3 linked regions of the Homo sapiens genome follow. The protein of the gene in region 3 interacts with the protein of the main gene of each other region in a pairwise test. Each region holds a gene or a part of one and is shown on either strand. Other genes may lie near its edges.

Evidence for each region. Proteins that work in one complex are often made in the same cells at the same time.
Region 1: the proteins of TNNI3K (region 3) and HADHB interact in a two-hybrid assay, tested with the Homo sapiens proteins (one study listed by BioGRID).
Region 2: the proteins of TNNI3K (region 3) and FABP3 interact in a two-hybrid assay, tested with the Homo sapiens proteins (one study listed by BioGRID).

The regions. Positions count from the first base shown.
Region 1 is NC_000002.12:26,275,906-26,282,938, forward strand, and holds part of HADHB (trifunctional enzyme subunit beta, mitochondrial isoform 1 precursor), read left to right. Parts: intron 1-1,167; coding exon 1,168-1,255; intron 1,256-2,708; coding exon 2,709-2,896; intron 2,897-3,229; coding exon 3,230-3,410; intron 3,411-4,088; coding exon 4,089-4,210; intron 4,211-6,939; coding exon 6,940-7,019; intron 7,020-7,033. UniProt on the Homo sapiens protein: Mitochondrial trifunctional enzyme catalyzes the last three of the four reactions of the mitochondrial beta-oxidation pathway.
Region 2 is NC_000001.11:31,364,753-31,370,109, reverse strand, and holds the end of FABP3 (fatty acid-binding protein, heart), read left to right. Parts: intron 1-519; coding exon of another isoform or gene 520-552; coding exon 553-725; intron 726-2,615; coding exon 2,616-2,717; intron 2,718-4,170; coding exon 4,171-4,224; 3' UTR 4,225-4,857; downstream 4,858-5,357. UniProt on the Homo sapiens protein: FABPs are thought to play a role in the intracellular transport of long-chain fatty acids and their acyl-CoA esters.
Region 3 is NC_000001.11:74,364,381-74,371,413, forward strand, and holds part of TNNI3K (serine/threonine-protein kinase TNNI3K), read left to right. Parts: intron 1-2,875; coding exon 2,876-2,962; intron 2,963-3,527; coding exon 3,528-3,584; intron 3,585-4,641; coding exon 4,642-4,734; intron 4,735-4,826; coding exon 4,827-4,884; intron 4,885-5,010; coding exon 5,011-5,205; intron 5,206-5,907; coding exon 5,908-6,012; intron 6,013-7,033. Other genes in the region: FPGT-TNNI3K fusion protein, read left to right, coding at 2,876-2,962, 3,528-3,584, 4,642-4,734, 4,827-4,884, 5,011-5,205, 5,908-6,012. UniProt on the Homo sapiens protein: May play a role in cardiac physiology.

The sequences.
Region 1 (7,033 bases), on a different chromosome or scaffold from region 3:
AGAGTGTGTTCTGAGGATAATTAATAGTTTCAGGGAAAGAATACTAAAAATGAATTCCCTATAATGGGATCCAGTATTTCATAGTAAATATTGTGTGGGTGTGTATGTGGGAGGAAATCTGGAAGCTTTATTTCTAAAGTAAAACTTTAATATTATAAAAATAAGTATTTTATAATTGCACCTGTGCATTAATTATTTACATAAACAAAAATGGAATCAGACGTTGATTGGTTTTTGACAGCATAATTTCCCCCAATAAATAGTATAATAAAATTATAGATGTGCTCATTTCATGTTTGACTTTCACTGTGCCATTATAATAGAGGCCATTTTTAAAAGATTAATAATGACCTCAGTTTTTCTTAAAGCCGCTCAGATGACAAATTATTCTCTTTGTATCACGTATTATGCCATCATCCTGGCCACTTGTTAGTTGGTCTGACCCTTATTTGTTCACAGACTCACTTGTAACTCAGGCAATTCTCCAGTTTCTTTCATTGAGTTGAGCTTCTGTATAGTTGGCAAGTTTTCCAGTTCATCTTTGCATTGGGTCTGCAGTGTGCTATCTGAAGTATCAGACGGTCAGTAAGAGAAACCAGCTGGCAGTGAGCAGAAAGATAGGTGTAAAGCAGACAGGGTCTTGAGTGGGAACTCTGTTTATGAAGGGTCAGTTCTTTAGAAATCATTTTCATGTTTAATCACTTTTGCTTTGCTGCTAAGCTTTGTGACTGATCATGAGACCTGATAACACAGATAGTGAGGACTCCACCCCATAATATATTTCATCATCATTCCAGCAACTGTCTTTAATAGGTTCTTTTAAGTATATTTGAACATTAAACAAGTTAAAATCAAATTATATATTGATATTCTTGAAGGCCCTGAGCAAAACATCGATAAGAAATTAGGTGAGTTAGGAGAGTATCATAGCCTCGTGTCTGCACTAGAAACCAGCCAGCAGGAATTTTGCATATACCTGTCAATTAATGGCAAGATTAAATATTAGTGAACCATTTCTGTGATGGACTTCATTTGATTTTAAATATTGCTCTGGAGAATGTTAAACTGAAACCGTTTCCAGATGACTATGAAGATTAGTGCTCAAAGCATCATTTACATGATGCCCTTCCCTTATAGTGATCATTTCATTCACTCTATTTCCTAAAGGCTGCCCTTGGAGCTGGCTTCTCTGACAAGACTCCTGCTCACACTGTCACCATGGCTTGTATCTCTGCCAACCAAGCCATGACCACAGGTATGTTTAAATGGAAACAGACAGTACATGTTAATTATTCTCCTTTGTCTTTTACTTGATTATAAAAATGTACTTTTTTTTTTTTTTTTTTTTTTAACACAGAACCTCACTCTGTCACTCAGGCTGGAGTGCAGTGGTACCATCATAGCTCACTGCAGGCTCAAACTCTTGAGCTCAAGAGATCATCCTGCCTTAGGATCCCAAGTAGCTGGGTCTACAGGTGCTCCACCACACCCAGCTAATTTTTAAATTTTTTGTGGAGACGGGATCTCGCCATGTTGCCCAGGCTGGTCTTAAACCTCTGGCCTCAAGTGATCCTTCTACCTCAGCCTCCAAAGTGCTGGGATTACAGGCGTGAGCCACCATGCTCATCCCAAAAAGTACTCTTAACAGAAGTAAAAGATTAGCACAGATCTCTATACTTGTGTTTTTTAAAAAGTAAGGTCAGGTTTAAAATTTGGGGGTTCTAACCGTAGTTAACCTCTTTTTTTGCTCTCCATACCTGAGGAACATTACCATTGGCGTGGTTCCTCTGTGAATAATGTGGCTGGCTGCAGCAGGGATTATCAACTGGAGGAGTGTATCTCTAGGAAGGTACTTCAGCATCTGAGGCATGAGTAAATAGTTTACAACCTGCCAGGCTTTCAACCTAGGTGCTTCAGATATGATATTTTCCCACAAAGATATGGTCTTCCTTCCTTCACCACTACCATACTTGTAAATCATTGCTTTAGATGGCACAGCTCTTTCCTTCACTTTCTCCTTACATCCTTGTCATTTTTATAAATCACTGAAAACCCCACTAACAAACTTTAGCAAAACTGTGGGATATTTTGTAGCATCAGCTCTTAGTGTGAGGAGGCAAGGAAGCCTGAAAGATTTAGTAATCATGTGCTCATCTAGTAACATCAAGGCCCAGGTGGGCACCCCACCTCATGTGTGGCGGGGAATGATGCCCGTGACTGGGGGCGTTCGCCACTCTAGGCAGCATGTGACCAACTCCTGGTTAGAGAAACAGAATACTGGCCAGTGGCCATAAGGAGAGAGGGGGCCTGCCTTACGTTTCAACAGCTGTAATTTCTCTGCTTTGCAGCAGAAGTTAACATTCTCTTTATAGGATAAAAAATCTTTATTAAAACTAAAGCTGGGAGCATATAAATATGCAAGATGTTCTGGTTTGGAATATGATTTGTTCAAGAGTTGGTCCAATGGATATTCCTAGAAGTTGACGTCCATATGGCAGGAATGAAACTTGTTTTTCTCTAACGTGTTGAATGTGTTTTTAGTCATTTAAGAAAATTACCTTAATTCTTCTGAAAAGTTGAAAACTTTAATTACAGATGTTGTACAAAGCTGATAACTGTCATTCAGCTTTTTAATCAAGAAGCTTAAATTGGAATGGTATGTTATTTTCTGTAAAAGATATTCATGAAGTATAACCTGTGCCCTGTAGGTGTTGGCTTGATTGCTTCTGGCCAGTGTGATGTGATCGTGGCAGGTGGTGTTGAGTTGATGTCCGATGTCCCTATTCGTCACTCAAGGAAAATGAGAAAACTGATGCTTGATCTCAATAAGGCCAAATCTATGGGCCAGCGACTGTCTTTAATCTCTAAATTCCGATTTAATTTCCTAGCACCTGAGGTAAGGCTTGTGTTTGCAGGGCATCCCACTGCAGAGATTTAGAATTAGGTATGGCAGTGTGGACTCTGCTATGCTGTAATAGGTGTAGATTCTGTAGTTACAGGAAAGGGTTAATTACTTGCTCAAGATGGAAAAAAAAGATAGTGGTTAGAAAACTTTAATTTGTGAGCCCTCTTTAGAGATCCTCTTTAGAGATCCTCTGCTTGTCTTGGACTTGATTGATTAATGGTAGACAAATAGATTTTAACTTTTCCAAATAACACAGAACAATCCTAGGTGTTAGCATAACACCGGTTAACAGTGTACCTGCTCCTTGGATATCTCCTTTCCCAGCTCCCTGCGGTTTCTGAGTTCTCCACCAGTGAGACCATGGGCCACTCTGCAGACCGACTGGCCGCTGCCTTTGCTGTTTCTCGGCTGGAACAGGATGAATATGCACTGCGCTCTCACAGTCTAGCCAAGAAGGCACAGGATGAAGGACTCCTTTCTGATGTGGTACCCTTCAAAGTACCAGGTGAAATGAAATGCTTCATGACACTTATTAGGGAGTTCTGAATTGCTCCTAAAACTCAAAAACATCCCGAGTGATTTTTCCATAAGTATGTTGGTTCTGTTTCCAAAGTATTCAGCCTTTATTCTTAAATATGGATGCAAATTTTGATTTATGTTGTAACAATAGGTTAACATTTTTTAATGTTTCTATAAGAGTGTCCTTTTAAGATCTGAGCACTAATCTCAGCACTTTGGGAGGCTGAGGCAGGAGGATCGCTTGAGGCCAGGAGTTCAAGACCAGCCTGGTCAACAGCGTGAGACTTCATCTCTAATTAAAAAAAAAAAAAAGAAAAACAGAGTCTCCTTTTAGATCTTGCTGATATATTTTAGTTCTTACATACATGCCTGTTTTTAAAATTCCTGAATCGTCTGACTTCTGTATAGAATAGCCAACTGTGAATGAATGTCTTAAGAAAATAGGGTGTCCTATTTTTAGTAAAGCATTTAGATGATTTCCCAATTGTCTTTTAAGACTTTAGTTTAAAATTTGATAATATGATAATTATAAAACACTTTCCTTCTAGTGAATAGGTAAGGTTTATATTTCATTTGTTTTTGTAATTTTTAAAGCATATTTCTGTGGAGAAGATATATAAGGCTTGTGGTTCCATAGAGTTAAAAAAATTCATTTTTTTAATAGGAAAAGATACAGTTACCAAAGATAATGGCATCCGTCCTTCCTCACTGGAGCAGATGGCCAAACTAAAACCTGCATTCATCAAGCCCTACGGCACAGTGACAGCTGCAAATTCTTCTTTCTTGGTAACTGTCAATGTTATTTGTATTTAGTAGTGACTTTTCTATTTCTGTACTCTCTGTAGAAAAGCCTAATATAACTTTTTGTGTGTGTTATGAATAGAGGGTTAAAAATATAGTTATTCATTTTAATGTGAAAGTGGAGTCATTAAAAAAAAAATAGAATCACGGTTTTAAGGCCCGAGAAGTCACCTAATCCAGCCACCATTCTGCCACAAAAGCTCTTCCTTTCAGGCACTTAACCAGTCAAAAACTTCTATTGCTTATGGTGGGCCCTGGAAATGAAAAGAATAGACAATTGCAATATAGTGAGATGCTGTGATGGCTGTAAGGCTTAGGTCGAACCCCTGACCCAGATGGGGGGACAGTCAGAGAGTCTTCTTGGAAGAGGTAACACTTGAGCAGCAAATCTTGAAGGAAGAGTAAAAGCCAACTCAGGAAGGATTTTAAAAGGCATTTCAGGCCGGGTGCGGTGGCTCACGCCTGTAATCCCAGCACTTTGGGAGGTTGAGGCAGGCAGATCACCTGAGGTCAGGAGTTCGAGACCAGCCTGAGCAACATGGAGAAACCCCGTCTCTACTAAAAATACAAAATTAGCCAGATGTGGTGGCACATGCCTGTTAATCCCGGCTACTCGGGAGGCTGAGGCAAGAGAATTGCTTGAACCCTGGAGGCGTGGAGGTTGCGGTGAGCCAAGATCGCACCATTGCACTCCAGCCTGCACAAGAGCGAAACTCCCATCTCAAAAAAAAAAAAAAAAAAAAAAAAAAAAGGCATTTTGGACAAAGGGAATAGCAAATGCAAAATCAAGGAAGTATGAGAGCAAGGGGTTCTTTGGGGAAAAGTTAGGTTGGAGCATAAGGTATGAACTGGGAAGTCGCAGAAGACAAGGAAAAGCAGGCAGAAAGAGTAACAGGATACCTCTTCCAGCCCTGATTGTTAGAAAACTGCTTTACACTGACCCCAATATTATTTTCCTGTAAGCATCATGGAACAAATCTACCACTGTTTGTTTTGTGTTTTTTTTTTAACTTATCAACATGTAGCTTCATATCCTTCCATGCTTTTCTGACTCCTCAATTAAACATCTTTATTGATTCTGCTGCTGCTTGTAAGATGTGATTTCTCTTCTCTTACCACCTTGGGTATAGTCTTCTGGATATAGGCCATCTGGTCAGAGTTTCTCTTACAATGTAACTCTCCTACCTGGCCATAAAGTCTTGAAAACATACGCAGATGTTTGACATATTTGCCCATGGTAAATGACTAATTAATGCCTGCTCTTGATAGGCTAGGGGAGTGGAATCTGGAGTAGTTCCAACAGGATGGAACACCACCCTGTTAAGCCCAGGTGGTGAAGAGCTGGTTAGGTTGGTCATTTGCAAAACCGAATTGGATGATAGAGCCATGTGGCATGGACTACACTTGCCAGATCTGAATCCTTTTGATTATTTCCAGGGTATGCTAAAGGTCCAGGTTTATTTAGTGAGAATCAGAGACACAAATCATCAGAGGTGACACATCACAATACATGGATTTTGGGGACTGCATTAGTGCCCCACATTCATTGCAATTTTGCACAATGGCACATTGAACCTGTTATTAATGTAATGTCTGTAAACCATTTATTCCATATGGTCACCTATGTCTCCAGACTTTATGGACACCCTATTGGTGGCTACACAGTCTCTTCAGGGTTGCCGAGTTATAAAAATACGACAGAATGTGGTAGAACTTATTTTGATTTTACAAATTATGAAGAATAGTTTCCTTTTCTTTGGAATTCTGAAGTTTTTGGGGGAGCTTTTCTTCTTTGAAGTATGGTAAAGGACGTTTTTTCAGTAGTACTTCTTTGTCCTCCAGCTTCTCGGTTGTCATTTGGGAAGAAATGTATGGGGTGTATCCAAAGAGGGAAGATTGTGGTTCTAATGTCCTCAGCTGGTTCTCCCATTGGTTTGCTCGTTACAGAATATATAAGTAGAATAAAATGACCTGTAAGCCACGGGCAGAAAGCAGCTGAGAGCCCAGAAAATGTAAAAATAAATAAATAAGAGATATGTTTATTTTGGTTCATATTTTGTGCCACAAGCTAAAAACTTTGGCTTAAATAAGTGTTTAGTGTTTATTATGAGCAGTTCTTTCTTTTTTTTTTTTTTTTTTTTTGAGACAGAGTCTGGCTTTGTCACCCAGGCTGGAATGCAGTGGCACGATCTCAGCTCACTGCAACCTCCGCCTCCCAGGTTCAAGCAATTCTCCTGCCTCAGCCTCAGCCTCCCAAGTAGCTGGGACTACAGGTGTGTGCCACCACACCTGGCTAAGTTTTTCTATTTTTAGTAGAGATGGGGTTTCACCGCGTTAGCCAGGATGGTCTCAATCACCTGCCTCATGATCTGCCCGCCTCAGCCTCCCAAAGTGCTGGGATTACAGGCATACAGGCATGAGCCACCACGCTTGGCCATGAGCATTTATTTCTAAAGTTACCTCTTCTGTTGATTCATTTTGATTATTATGATACTTTTGAACAGCCTTCTCTACCCTCATCCTCCAAAAATGAGTCAGCGTGTGTATGTTTGAATTATGATTTAATGATGGATACAGTGAAGTAAGTGTTGTTATATAGAATCACTGTATAAGTCTAATGAGTTAATAGATTCAGGTACAGATATATAAGATGGCTGGAGAAAGACCTCCAGACAGGCTGAAGAATTTTAACATTGTGCTGGTTAACATTTCAGACTGATGGTGCATCTGCAATGTTAATCATGGCGGAGGAAAAGGCTCTGGCCATGGGTTATAAGCCGAAGGCATATTTGAGGTAAAGTAAATGTT
Region 2 (5,357 bases), about 43 Mb from region 3:
TTTTTTGAGGTGGAATCTCACTCTGTTGGCTAGGCTGGAGTGCAGTGGCACAATCTCGACTCACTGCAACCTCCACCTCCTAGGTTCAAGCAATTCTCAGCCTCAGCCTCCTGAGTAGCTGGGATTACAGGCACATACCACCACATCTGGCTAATTTTTTGTATTTTTAGTAGAGACGGGTTTCACCATATTGGCCAGGCTGGTCTTAAACTCCTGGCCTCATGTGATCCGCCTGCCTTGGCCTCCCAAAGTGTGATTACAGGCGTGAGCCACCACACTTGGCCCAATAGTAGCTTATTCTAATCCCAGCTCTGCCACTGACTTGCTATGGCACTGCTGTTCCTTAAGTATCTCTCATCTAATGGGATCAGTTATCTGTGTTCACCAAACAGAACTAAGCGCAAGACTGAATTTTAAAATTCCCATGCAAAGGCTTTGAAAGATACAGTCCTCCACTTCCCCATACCCAGGCCTGAGAGTTATTCATTGAGTTTCTTGTACACTGCTTCTCTACCCCAGCTCATATACTCATAACCTTCCCCCTACCCTCAGGTGTGGGTTTTGCTACCAGGCAGGTGGCCAGCATGACCAAGCCTACCACAATCATCGAAAAGAATGGGGACATTCTCACCCTAAAAACACACAGCACCTTCAAGAACACAGAGATCAGCTTTAAGTTGGGGGTGGAGTTCGATGAGACAACAGCAGATGACAGGAAGGTCAAGGTAAGTCAGGGAAACAGGGGTGGGGAATGGAGAGTGCTGAGACTCTAAAAGAGAATAGGCTGGTAGTCTTGGCTCCCTGGTATTGCACCCTGAGGGGCAGACTATCATGGGGAATTTAAATGAAACAAGATTCATAAAGCCTGTGTAGTGCTGGAATGCCACTGATGCTAAATACATGTCAGTTCTGTCCTCTTGTTTTCTTCCCTCCCTTCTTGGGATTCATCTATTGTCTGCCTCGGAATGGGCAGCACAGAGCCAGGATGTTCTTCTGACCTCAGTATCTACTCCAGCTCCAGCTGGGTGACCCTGTGCAAGGTATGCAGTAGCTCTAGGTTTCTTTCCCCTTCCATAGATGGCAGAGTTATGTGGCCATGGCTGTGACCTGAAGTGCTTTAGGAATGATGCCCAGAAGTCAGGGCCCTCCACTGAGTGAGGTCATTGTGACCTCCAGCAGCAAAAAAGGCAGCCAGGAACTAGAAGCACCTACTCAGATGCCGCTTCAACTTCTAACTCCCAGACATGGCCAATGACCCTGACAAACTATTTCCAGTGTTGCCAGCTGACAGGCAGGAAGAGCTATGTTCCGTGATAGGGCATTCACCTTGTCATGAATGTGTTTGCAGTGTCTTCCCACCAAGCCTTAGCCCCTCCTCCCAGGGTTCTATCACCCTGCAGTGGCTGTCTTGGCAGCTTGCCTCAGCCTTCCAGGCCAGGCATGGGAGCGAGAGAACTTAAGGGCTTTGACCTCTATAGGGTGTCCCTATAGCAGTGTTCTATCATGACACTATCATTCAGCCCCATCAGCTGTTTCCTCTTCCTCATAGCTGTCCCCAGAAAGAACAGGATCACACAGGTGGCTGGCAGCAGAGCTGGGGATGGTGCCCAAAGATGGCAGTCTACCTTGGATAAAGGTGGCTGCCCCACCACCTGCTCATACCTCCTTGGACTTGCCTACTTTCTCAAGGGGCAAGAACCCCAATTAAACACAATAGCCCTGTGGAATGCCTAGGGCAAAAATATCTACTCTGAGTAGGCAAAAAAAACTAGGGGAATGAGAACAAGGAGTAAGGTAAGGATAAAAAAGAGCACACTAAGAGACAGGCCTCATACCCCTTATCACCTAAACAATACACAGAACCTTCTCAGATTCTCCTACTGAACCACCTTGCTCATCAGGATCCCTTAGCCTGGCCTTGTGGCCCCCAAACTCCTAGGAAAGAGAGCTGGAAGAGCTGCCAAATGAGAACCAGCTGATGTATGTATGCTGGCAGCACCCAGAGCTGAGGAACCACTTCAAGGGCATCCAGTCACAGGACTTTGTGGTTGCTGCCCTCTTGTTGGCTAAAGAGGTCACATGATGTGGACCAAGAAAAGGTGTAGGAATACAGGGCAGGAAGTCTAATTATCCAATACTTCCTATCACTAAGGGTCTTTTAGACATTATGTGGACTAACCACAAGGCTGGATAAAGATTCTCAGGACTACTCCTCCTCCTCAGTCAGTCTTTCCCAGGGATAGACTAGTAAATCCCACCTGTATCTGAGGGGACCAGGCTACGGGAATCACCTAGAGTACAGATAAGTGTCTGTCTTGAAGGCTTGTGGTACTTCTCAGAGCCAGGCTCTCTGGCTCCACCATACTGCCTGCCTCTCCCTCCTTGCCTAATATCTGAAGGCCTCTTCCCCAGAAAGGCAGTAGTGGAGCAGAGGCTGGAGGTGAACTAGATGTCTTGCAGGGATAGCTGGGAGGCGGATTGCCTGAGCTCTTGTCCTCACACCATCACTAGTTTGGGTCAAAGGCTGTGTGCTCTGTGGCCCAGTGTCCAGACCCCACCCTGCCCCTCAATTCCTGACTAAGATCACAGCTCAGGCCTCTACCCTCTTTCCACAGTCCATTGTGACACTGGATGGAGGGAAACTTGTTCACCTGCAGAAATGGGACGGGCAAGAGACCACACTTGTGCGGGAGCTAATTGATGGAAAACTCATCCTGGTAAGATGGGCAACTTTGGAGCTATATCTGATTGGTTATTACTACTGCTCTTTCAGCCAAGCCTGTTCTAAAAAGCCAAGTCCTCCCCTGAGAGCTGTAGAAGCTGGGACAAGAGAGTGGTTGTGGGTCAGGGTGGTATCAGGTGGGAATTTTCTGTGTAGTGGCTTTGGACTCACACAGGCCGGAACTCAAATCTTACCTTATAGGCTACATGACTGTGGGCAAATCACCTTTTCCAAGTGCAACTGTAAAACGGGTATTAATAATACCAACCTTGTAGGGCTGCTGGGAAGCCTGTAAGAGACAGTGTATGCACAGCACAAAGCATCACTGATTGAGGAACACAGCAGGTGCTCCATGTCCTTTGTTTGCTCTTCCTGTGTTTCTACCTTGCCTCACCTCAGGAAGAAGTAGAAAACAGGGCCAAATCTGATCCCAGGCCCTCTAGGAGGGGCTCCCATTGCCTATCTCAGCATTCCCTTTCCTCTCCTCCCTAGGACTGCATTGTCACTTGCAGGGACAGGCTCGTGACTGGTGGGGACACTGAATGACAGTACAGTCCTTTCTTCCCCATTCTAGTCCTACCCCATTTTCATGCTTTCTATGTCTGGCCTACTGAAACTACTTGACTACTGCTTGGGTAGGAAGTACCACAGCCAGGCTGGCAGATCTGTTCAAGCTTGGGGACTTCACTTGGAGAATCTAGCCTTGACTGAATTCCCCCCAGACCCAGGGAGAGCAGCCAACTGTGGATTCTGCCTAACCACAGGGCCTCAGGTTTTCACCTAGGCATCTTCACTGCACACCTTCTTGGGTCAGCATAACCTGTTAACTGCATTCTTGTACTCATGTGGGACAGGGGTCCCCTTGAAGTTTGGAATGAGGTGCCTAGCTTTGGTGGGGATGTGATATGCAGGACCAAATTCTCAGTGGCAGCTGAACTATGGTGAGGCCATGGGTCTGGCTCTATGATGCCAGACCGGATAGTGGGAGGTACAGGGCTCTGGCCCTGGCACTACTCTAAGTTAGGGAAGGATTGGAGTTAGTAGCCAAACACAGTCCTTTCCTGAGTCTCTGGATATTTTTCCTATTTGTCAACTATATGCCAGGCACCATCTTAGACACTAAGGATGAAGGAAGCCAAATGGTATAAGGGAAGGAAAAACACTCAGGATCTTGACCAAATTACTTCCTCTCTAAAGGCTCGTTTTTTCCAAATCTCTAAAATAAGAATTACAATGCCTATCTTAAGGATTTGCTGTGCATATCAGAAAAAAAAAATTATGTATGTATACACACACACACACACACACACACACACACACACACATACATACATATAGCCGGCACATAGTAGGTACTCAAGTGACAATTATCAGGAGGAAGGGAGGGTAGAATGCTCGCAATGGTGTTCCTGGCTCCACCCCCCATCTCACTCTGTCTTTCCTTCCAGACACTCACCCACGGCACTGCAGTTTGCACTCGCACTTATGAGAAAGAGGCATGACCTGACTGCACTGTTGCTGACTACTACTCTGCCAATCGGCTACCCCTCGACTCAGCACCACATTGCCTCATTTCTTCCTCTGCATTTTGTACAAATCCACGAATTCTTCTGGGGTCAGGTGCCACTGACCGGGATCCAGTTCCAGTTCCCATGGTGTATGTGGTTTTTTTTTTTTTTTTTTAACTGCACTCATAGGGTGCTCTGAGGTCAATAAAGCAGAGCCAAGGCCACCCAGTTGCCTTTTTGCCTTTGGTAACATAACTCTGGGAGTCTTGGTTTATCCTGTGTGTCAGAGAGTGGGCAGAAATAACGGCCTGAAGGTTACTGAGGAAGAAGCACTGGATGGGAGACTGAAATGGACAGTCTCGGAGCCTGTTAATCAGCTGATCACCTTACACATTTAATAATAAAAGAGCTGTACCTACACGTTGCCTTTACACTGCCCCCCCTCCATGGTCAAATGACCTAGTTCAGTCAGTGATGGGGCTTCCCCAGGTTTGGCTATTGAACTGTCACTTCAGGCCCATCCTACACTGAAAGCTCTTGGGTCTGGCTGTTCTCTGTGAAATGCTGTAGTCTCTCCCTTTCCAGAATTCAGGTTCAGGGCACAGAACCCAGGCTTGTACCATGGTGGTGGGAGAAAATGACCACTGGCCAAGAGGACTGCTGACCTGTGCACCAGGCTAGTACTTATGACTACAAATTCTTACTGCTTCTCTAATCAACTCTGAGGGAAGAGGGCATCTGATCATTACAAAAGGGAGGGCTTATAAGTGATCTCCCAAGAAGGCAGTGATCTGCTAGTGCCTTTGGCTCTGTACCTCTGCTGGGCATCTCTCCAAGGTCTAAGGTAACATATTAAATGTTTTTGTCAGCTAATGCAGGCTCAGTGACTTTAAGTCTGTAAGTTACCCAGGAAGAAGGATTATAGGAAAAATAACTCAGTAAGTTTAAAACCAAACACATTTCCATTTAGTGACAGGAATTTAAGCAAGGACCTGAAGTAGAATCAACTGATTCACACAGTAGTAAATACAAAGTAGAACAATGATCTTGGCTTCGCTGTCTGGTTCAGTGGTCTGCTGGAATGCAATACACAAGTTAAGTCACACTGCAGACTGTTTTCTAGCTGT
Region 3 (7,033 bases):
ATGCTCAACAGCAGGCAGCACCAACACACAAGCAAGGCACAAGCACACTGAAATATTCATGAAACTGGATGTGGTAGGTAGAGTAATGCCCCCTCAAAGATGTTCAGTTCCTGTTCACTGGAACTGTAAGCAGGCTGCCTTACATGGGGAAGAATCAAGGAGGTAGAGTAATGCCCCCCGCCACCCCCAAAGATGTTCAGGTCCTGTTTGTTGGAACTGTAAGTAGGCTGCCTTACATGGGGAAGAATCAAGGTTGTTATTTAGCTGACTTTAAGAGATAGATTATCCTGGATTATCCCAGTGGGCTCATTGTAATATGGAAAAGGGGGGCAGAAGCAGAGGTCAGAGCAATATGATATGAGGACTAAGCCAACCATTGCTGGCTTTGAAGCAATAGGAAGGGGGCTACAAGCCAAGGAATGTGGGTGGCCTATAAAACTTGGAAAAGTCAAGGAAACCAATTATCTCCTAAGGCCTCTAGAAAGAAATGCAGTCCTGCTGACACCTTGATTTCAGCTCAGAGAAAACCATGTTGAACTTTTGACCTCCAGAATTATAAGATAATAAATTTGTATTGCTCAAGTCACTATGTTTGTCATAACTAGCAATAGCAGCAATAGAAAATGAATACACTGGTATTTAGAAGATTCGTCTGAAATTCCAAAAAGGAGTTTCCAAGTTCACCTACAATTCTTGGGGCAAAAAGTAAAGTGTAAAAGCAGTGACAAGACCCAAAATGCACACTGATGTGTTAGAACTGTAAGGCATATTACATACATCATCTTAGTTAATCTTTACAACAATCTTACAAGGGTGGATTATCGTTTCTAACCTGTAGATGACGATCTTTTTAAAAAGTAAAACAGATCATATCCTTTAACTAATTAAAATGCTTCAGGGGCTCCCCATCTCGCCTACCCTACACGAAAATCTCATCTCCTTATCCTCACCTGTAAAGCTCTACATCAGTCGCAGTCAAAGTGCAGATTGCTGATGAGCATCACCTGGGACCTTGTTAGAAACACAACACTCAGCCCCTACTACAGACTTTTTCAATTGTGATCTATTGGGACAGGGCTTGGGAATCTGTTTGAACTTGCACTTCAAGTGATTCTTATACATAGTAAAAAAATTTGAGAAGCACTACTCCACATGAAGTACACTTGCCTACCTCTCCAACCAAATCTGATACCACTCTCATCCTTGCTTGTGTAGCCACACTGGCCTTTTTTCATTCTCTAAACATGTTATGTTTGCTCCCATCTTGGGACTACTACATTATCTATTCTCTCTGCCTATTAGGTGCTTCCCCTAGAAATTAGTTTGTTGGCTAATGTCCTTAAATTAGTCTTAAGGTTTCCCTGATCGTGAGCTCGCTGCAGTCCAAAGAAAGAATGCCAATGGGACTGCCCCCCACGTTATTTCATTATAACTTATTCCTATGATTTGAGAAAATTAGAGATCCACCAGTCATGAATAGAAAGCTGGAGATGATAAGAAAATAGACACTAGTTTTTAACTATGTAGATTTAAGTTTTGCTACCAGTTTTAGCAATTGTAATCACAATGCTTTTTTTTTTTTTCCTCGAAGAATCTTAGCCTTGTTACCTTTGGAAAAGCTTTTCGTGTTTGTAAATACCATGATTTTTCCACCTCATGATCTTGAATGCACTGTTCATTTAAAGTTTTTGCGGAAGGGAAGATTTGAAAGGCAAGCAAATCTCAGCATATACTCTCTACATAAGCTAGATGTATGCTTAACCCATGTTAACTACAGATCCTTTGTGATGGATAAGTATTTATGCTTTTTCAATTCCTTAAATTTACCAGTTTTACAATAAGCTCTGTTGTATTTCACAAATCCTATGGCAACATCTTTAAGGTTGGCTGTTTTTCTCTTTTGTAAATTAGCTTCATAGATTATTTTTATAGTGAACGCATTAAAATAGTATTGAAGTTTAATTTTATTGAAAAACATTGCATTACTCAGAGGATCATTTGGCATTTTTTATCCTTCACAATCATAAGCCCCTAGTGTAACTAGTAAACACTAGATTGTTGGTGGTGTTATAATAGAAAAGTATTTCTCATATAGCACTTCAGGGTGGGCATTTCTGGTCAGTGGATGGCTTTCTTCCAACCCTCAGAGCTTCAGAGCCTTCTGCATCTAGCCAGCAAATGGGAAGAGTAGAGAAGGCTCACCTGTTTCTTAAGGCACAGACCTGGAAGTTACTTCACTTTTGCTCATATTCCCTTCATGAAAATATGTCGCAAGGCCACAGTTGGATGCAAGGTACATAGGAAAATGTCACTGGGTGGGCAGCCATTCCCAGTGACAAAATCACCCTGTGAAAGAGGAGTACAAATATTGGCAGGCAGCCAGCTGTCTCTAAAAACCTATGTAAATTATCTTAGTGCTGCATAATACTACAATACTGAATCAAATGTACGCTCAATCACAGCAAATACATCTCTCTTTCCTGATTACTGTATGTACTTTTTGCCCTTTTAATAGTGCCCTTATTATATATTCCCATAGTACTTAGTATTGCCTTATTTAGAAATCCTCATCATTTTTCTGATTATTTGTTCAACTACATTGTAAGCTTCTTAAGGGTAAGACCATAGTCACTTTGTTCACTGCATCACCAGTACCCATTCCCAGTAGAGTGCCTGACATAGTGCTTCGCATATGGTAGTCTTAAGAAATCATTTTGAACCAAAGAATGAATGAACTAAATTTCTATTGCAATACATTACCTCTTATGATTTGTCCTATGTTGTAAGCTACTTCCAATAATTTTTGGATTTGAGAGTAGACTGAATAACTTAAACAAAATTTAGGACTCTTTGTTCTTTGTATCTTTTCATAAAGGGCATGATGCCATTGTCACACTCCTGAAGCATTATAAGAGACCACAAGATGAATTGCCCTGTAATGAATATTCTCAGCCTGGAGGAGGTACCCCTTTTCTTATTCAGTTTTCATTATTGTATAATATATTGTGCCTAAAGGTAAACCTGTGTTTCTGTTACTATCATTCTTTCAGGGGTTAGGGAGGAGGGCATAGCCTATGTCAGATTAGATTTATTTTAAGTAACCTTATGTCTGGGAGAGGCTGAACATAAAGAAGCCTCCATTTCAGCTATTTTCTAACTCACCAATCTGCAGCTCCTCCAAGTTTAACATTTCCCAGACTGGATGTTTATGAGGCTTGTGCATGACTAGGAAGGCCTGGATAAGCTGAGAGCAGTCATTTTCCATTTCAGTAATCTATTACTGAATACTCATATCCAGAGACAAATTAAATCTGCTAGAGTCTGCTACAACTTGGATTTTCTAAAAAATCTTTTTATGCACTTTCTAAATAAACACTTGCAGTACAATTTCAGTATCCAGAGAAAGATTTGGGCCTGAAGCGATAGTTTTACTTCGTTTCGTCACCTGCTTATTTTTATAATGTTGAACTTTTATGTAGAAAAAAATGATCGCTACTTTCAACTCTATTATATAATTTAATTTCTAGATGGCTCCTATGTGTCTGTTCCATCACCCTTGGGGAAGATTAAAAGCATGACAAAAGGTACCTATAATCTGGGACAATTGTTATATTTAATTACTAAGGATAACTATTGCTTCAAATGTAATTTTCAATTTTGTTTTACATATTACAAATGATGACTATTTTACAAGCACAACAAATATTATTGACAGACCGTTCTTTTCATAATTAACCTTACCCTTTATCTCCTTTCAGTGCATAAAGATATAATAACAGTGAAAATTTCACATAACTATTAAAGAAAAATCAAATTCTCACTGGACTGTTTAGATGTTTCTGTTTTTTATAAAAATGAATTATAAATATTAATATTTCTTTAAGGAGAATTGGGACTAGAAAACATATGTGAAAAAATATATATTATTTTTCAAAATATCCCCAATAAGTAATACTTTGGGACCATTTTTGAATGTATGCTTCACACAGAAATGAATAACATTGGACCAGGAAAGTAAAAACTTTGATTCAAATGTAAATATATATTTAACTATTTGGAATTTAAATTCCAAATAGTTTCCTTAGAATGTAGAATGAGTGTTTCCTTAGAATGATTCATACGCTTATTTCCTGTCATTTAATTGGCATCCCTTTGAGGTTAGTTTATGGATATTTGGCTAAGCCTATTGGAATAGACTGAAGAGAGTTACCAGATCAGAACCTTTATCATAATGTGATACGGACTGGACTCCAGGGTTGCCATGTCATGCAGGAATAGATCAGGAATAGACCTTCAGCCCTGCTAACAAGGAGTGAGTAGATCAGGAATAGACCCTTAGCGCTGGTAACCAGATCAGGAATAGACCCTTAGCCCTGGTAACCAGATCAGGAATAGACCCTTAGCCCTGGTAACAAGGAGTGAGTAATCAAGACATAGAACTAACATGATTTTAATGCAGGGGGGTAGGGATCATTTGGGTTAAGGTTTTAGCATCTTTAAGTAGTCAATTACAGTTGGAAAATTAAAAATTAAATGTTATTAGGAAATTATGTTTTTAGTTAAATATATATATGCACATGTATACACATCCATGTGTGTGGTTTTTACCTTAAAAAATAAAATGACAATTTCTCTTTGCAGAGAAGGCAGATATTCTCCTCCTAAGAGCTGGATTGCCTTCACATTTCCATCTTCAGCTCTCAGAAATTGAGTTCCATGAGATTATTGGCTCAGGTAACCTAAAATAAATAAATAAATAAAGGTCCGGTTTAGTTGAATGAGCTTAAGTTAATATGTGTTTATTTATTTATTTTAAACAATTGTAGGTTCTTTTGGGAAAGTATATAAAGGACGATGCAGAAATAAAATAGTGGCTATAAAACGGTAAGCAAGCAAATGAAAAAATTTAACATCCAGGTGGAATTGTGACCTTTGAGAAGCATGTGCATGGCAAGCCCCTTGTTTGGATCCATCTGTTTACTGAAGATTTTCTGTTGCTGCCATTTCCAGTTATCGAGCCAATACCTACTGCTCCAAGTCAGATGTGGATATGTTTTGCCGAGAGGTGTCCATTCTCTGCCAGCTCAATCATCCCTGCGTAATTCAGTTTGTGGGTGCTTGCTTGAATGATCCCAGCCAGTTTGCCATTGTCACTCAATACATATCAGGGGGTTCTCTGTTCTCCCTCCTTCATGAGCAGAAGAGGTATGGGTCTTTTGTTCTGATTTATCCTTGGACATTCCGTAGAAACTACTCTTGCAATACTTCAGAGGGTTTCCCATTGGATGAGCCTTCACCTTTTGAAATCTGAGTGCTGCTAGCAAGTGTGTCATTTTTAATATCGCTAATAATTTATGCCTAATAACTGTGTTTCAATGAATAGAAATACTTTATGCTTTCTTAGCAGAAATTCAGTTGAAGATAACAAATTTAAGGAATTTAAATTGGAAACTGGAGCTTAAAATAATTAGGCTAAATTTGAAATACTGATAAAGAAGATATATGTAAGCTCAGAATAAAATAAACTTTTAAAAAAGTGATCTTGAACAAATCCAATGTGAATTCACTTTCTGAGTTTATGCATATAGTAATTAGAATGTAGTTTCATACAGTGATTAAAATAGATTTCATTTTACAATATTACAAAGAAATTAAGTATAGTATTATAAATAAATTATAAAACCAAGTATAATATCTTAAACAAGAGATGCTGTATATCTTAATTGATTCATAATTAAGCATTTTCTGATGTAGGAAAGCTATTCAGATTTGTTGAATTTCTAGCTTAACCTTCAAGAAACAAAAAATGGTTAAGATGATATAAAATAACAACTCTTACACATCATTTGCTTTTTTGATATTCGTTTTGACCATTTCATCTCTGTTAAATCTATTTTTAAATTCTAGGATTCTTGATTTGCAGTCTAAATTAATTATTGCAGTAGATGTTGCCAAAGGCATGGAGTACCTTCACAACCTGACACAGCCAATTATACATCGTGACTTGAACAGGTATTTTTTTCCTAAATAATGAACTCAGAAGGGTATGACTAACTGGGAGTTTAAGACAGATTTCAGTGAAGATACATTTTAGACTTATTGCAGATCAGGGTACTCTGTGGTTAAGAGGACAGGCTACCATAAGCTTAGGCGATAGAAAGTTTTGTCATTGTCTTTTAAGGAGTAGAAAGCTGTATAACTGCTTCTCAGGGATCTTTTAAATCTATGAAGAATATTCACAAATATAGTAATATCTGTAAGATGCACCAGCTAACTAGTTCCCAGGTCAGTAAGGTCACATCAAGCAGTGAGCTAAATGGCTATTAAAAAAATGATATGTCTCCTATAAAGTGAAGTGTTGGAGTAGCTCCTGATATAAAATTATCTGAAACGTACTTTGTGCTACCGTAAATTCAGCTTAACCACAACAGCTTATTTACCTAGTTATCAGGTAAAGAGGATTTCATGTGAAACAAATATAAAATCAGAGTGTTCCAGTGGTGGAACCCCAAGTGACCTCAAAACTTTTCCTAAATAGTGAAAACTTTCTCTGAGTAAAGTCTTATAGGAAAGGCCAATATACAAAATGGAGCAGTGTTGGGTGAAGGTAAAGTGGGGAGGAGAAAACTCTATTTACTTCCCATTTCCCACTGCTAAGGAGAGAGATTCCTGCACCACCTCTGTGGAAGCCCAAAGGTGCTGTAGAGAATAGTTGGACAAACACTGATTTAGTTTATGAAGCAAGTCAGATTATTCCACATCAATCACTTTCATTTTATGATAGTCAATAAGATTCAAATAGATTGTGTATATAGTCCTTTATAGAAGCTTTACAGTTCTGAAGCTAGTAAATATTGATTACTCTAGTCAGTCATTTGGTCAACAACTATGTTTGAACATATATGTTTAAAGACTATTTTCAGCACAGTAGAGCTTACAAAGTGGGACGTTCATAGACTACATTCAGGGAGTTTTCACACTCTATGTAGAGGAGAAAAATATTTACCTAAATGTATTTGAGGTATAAAATAAT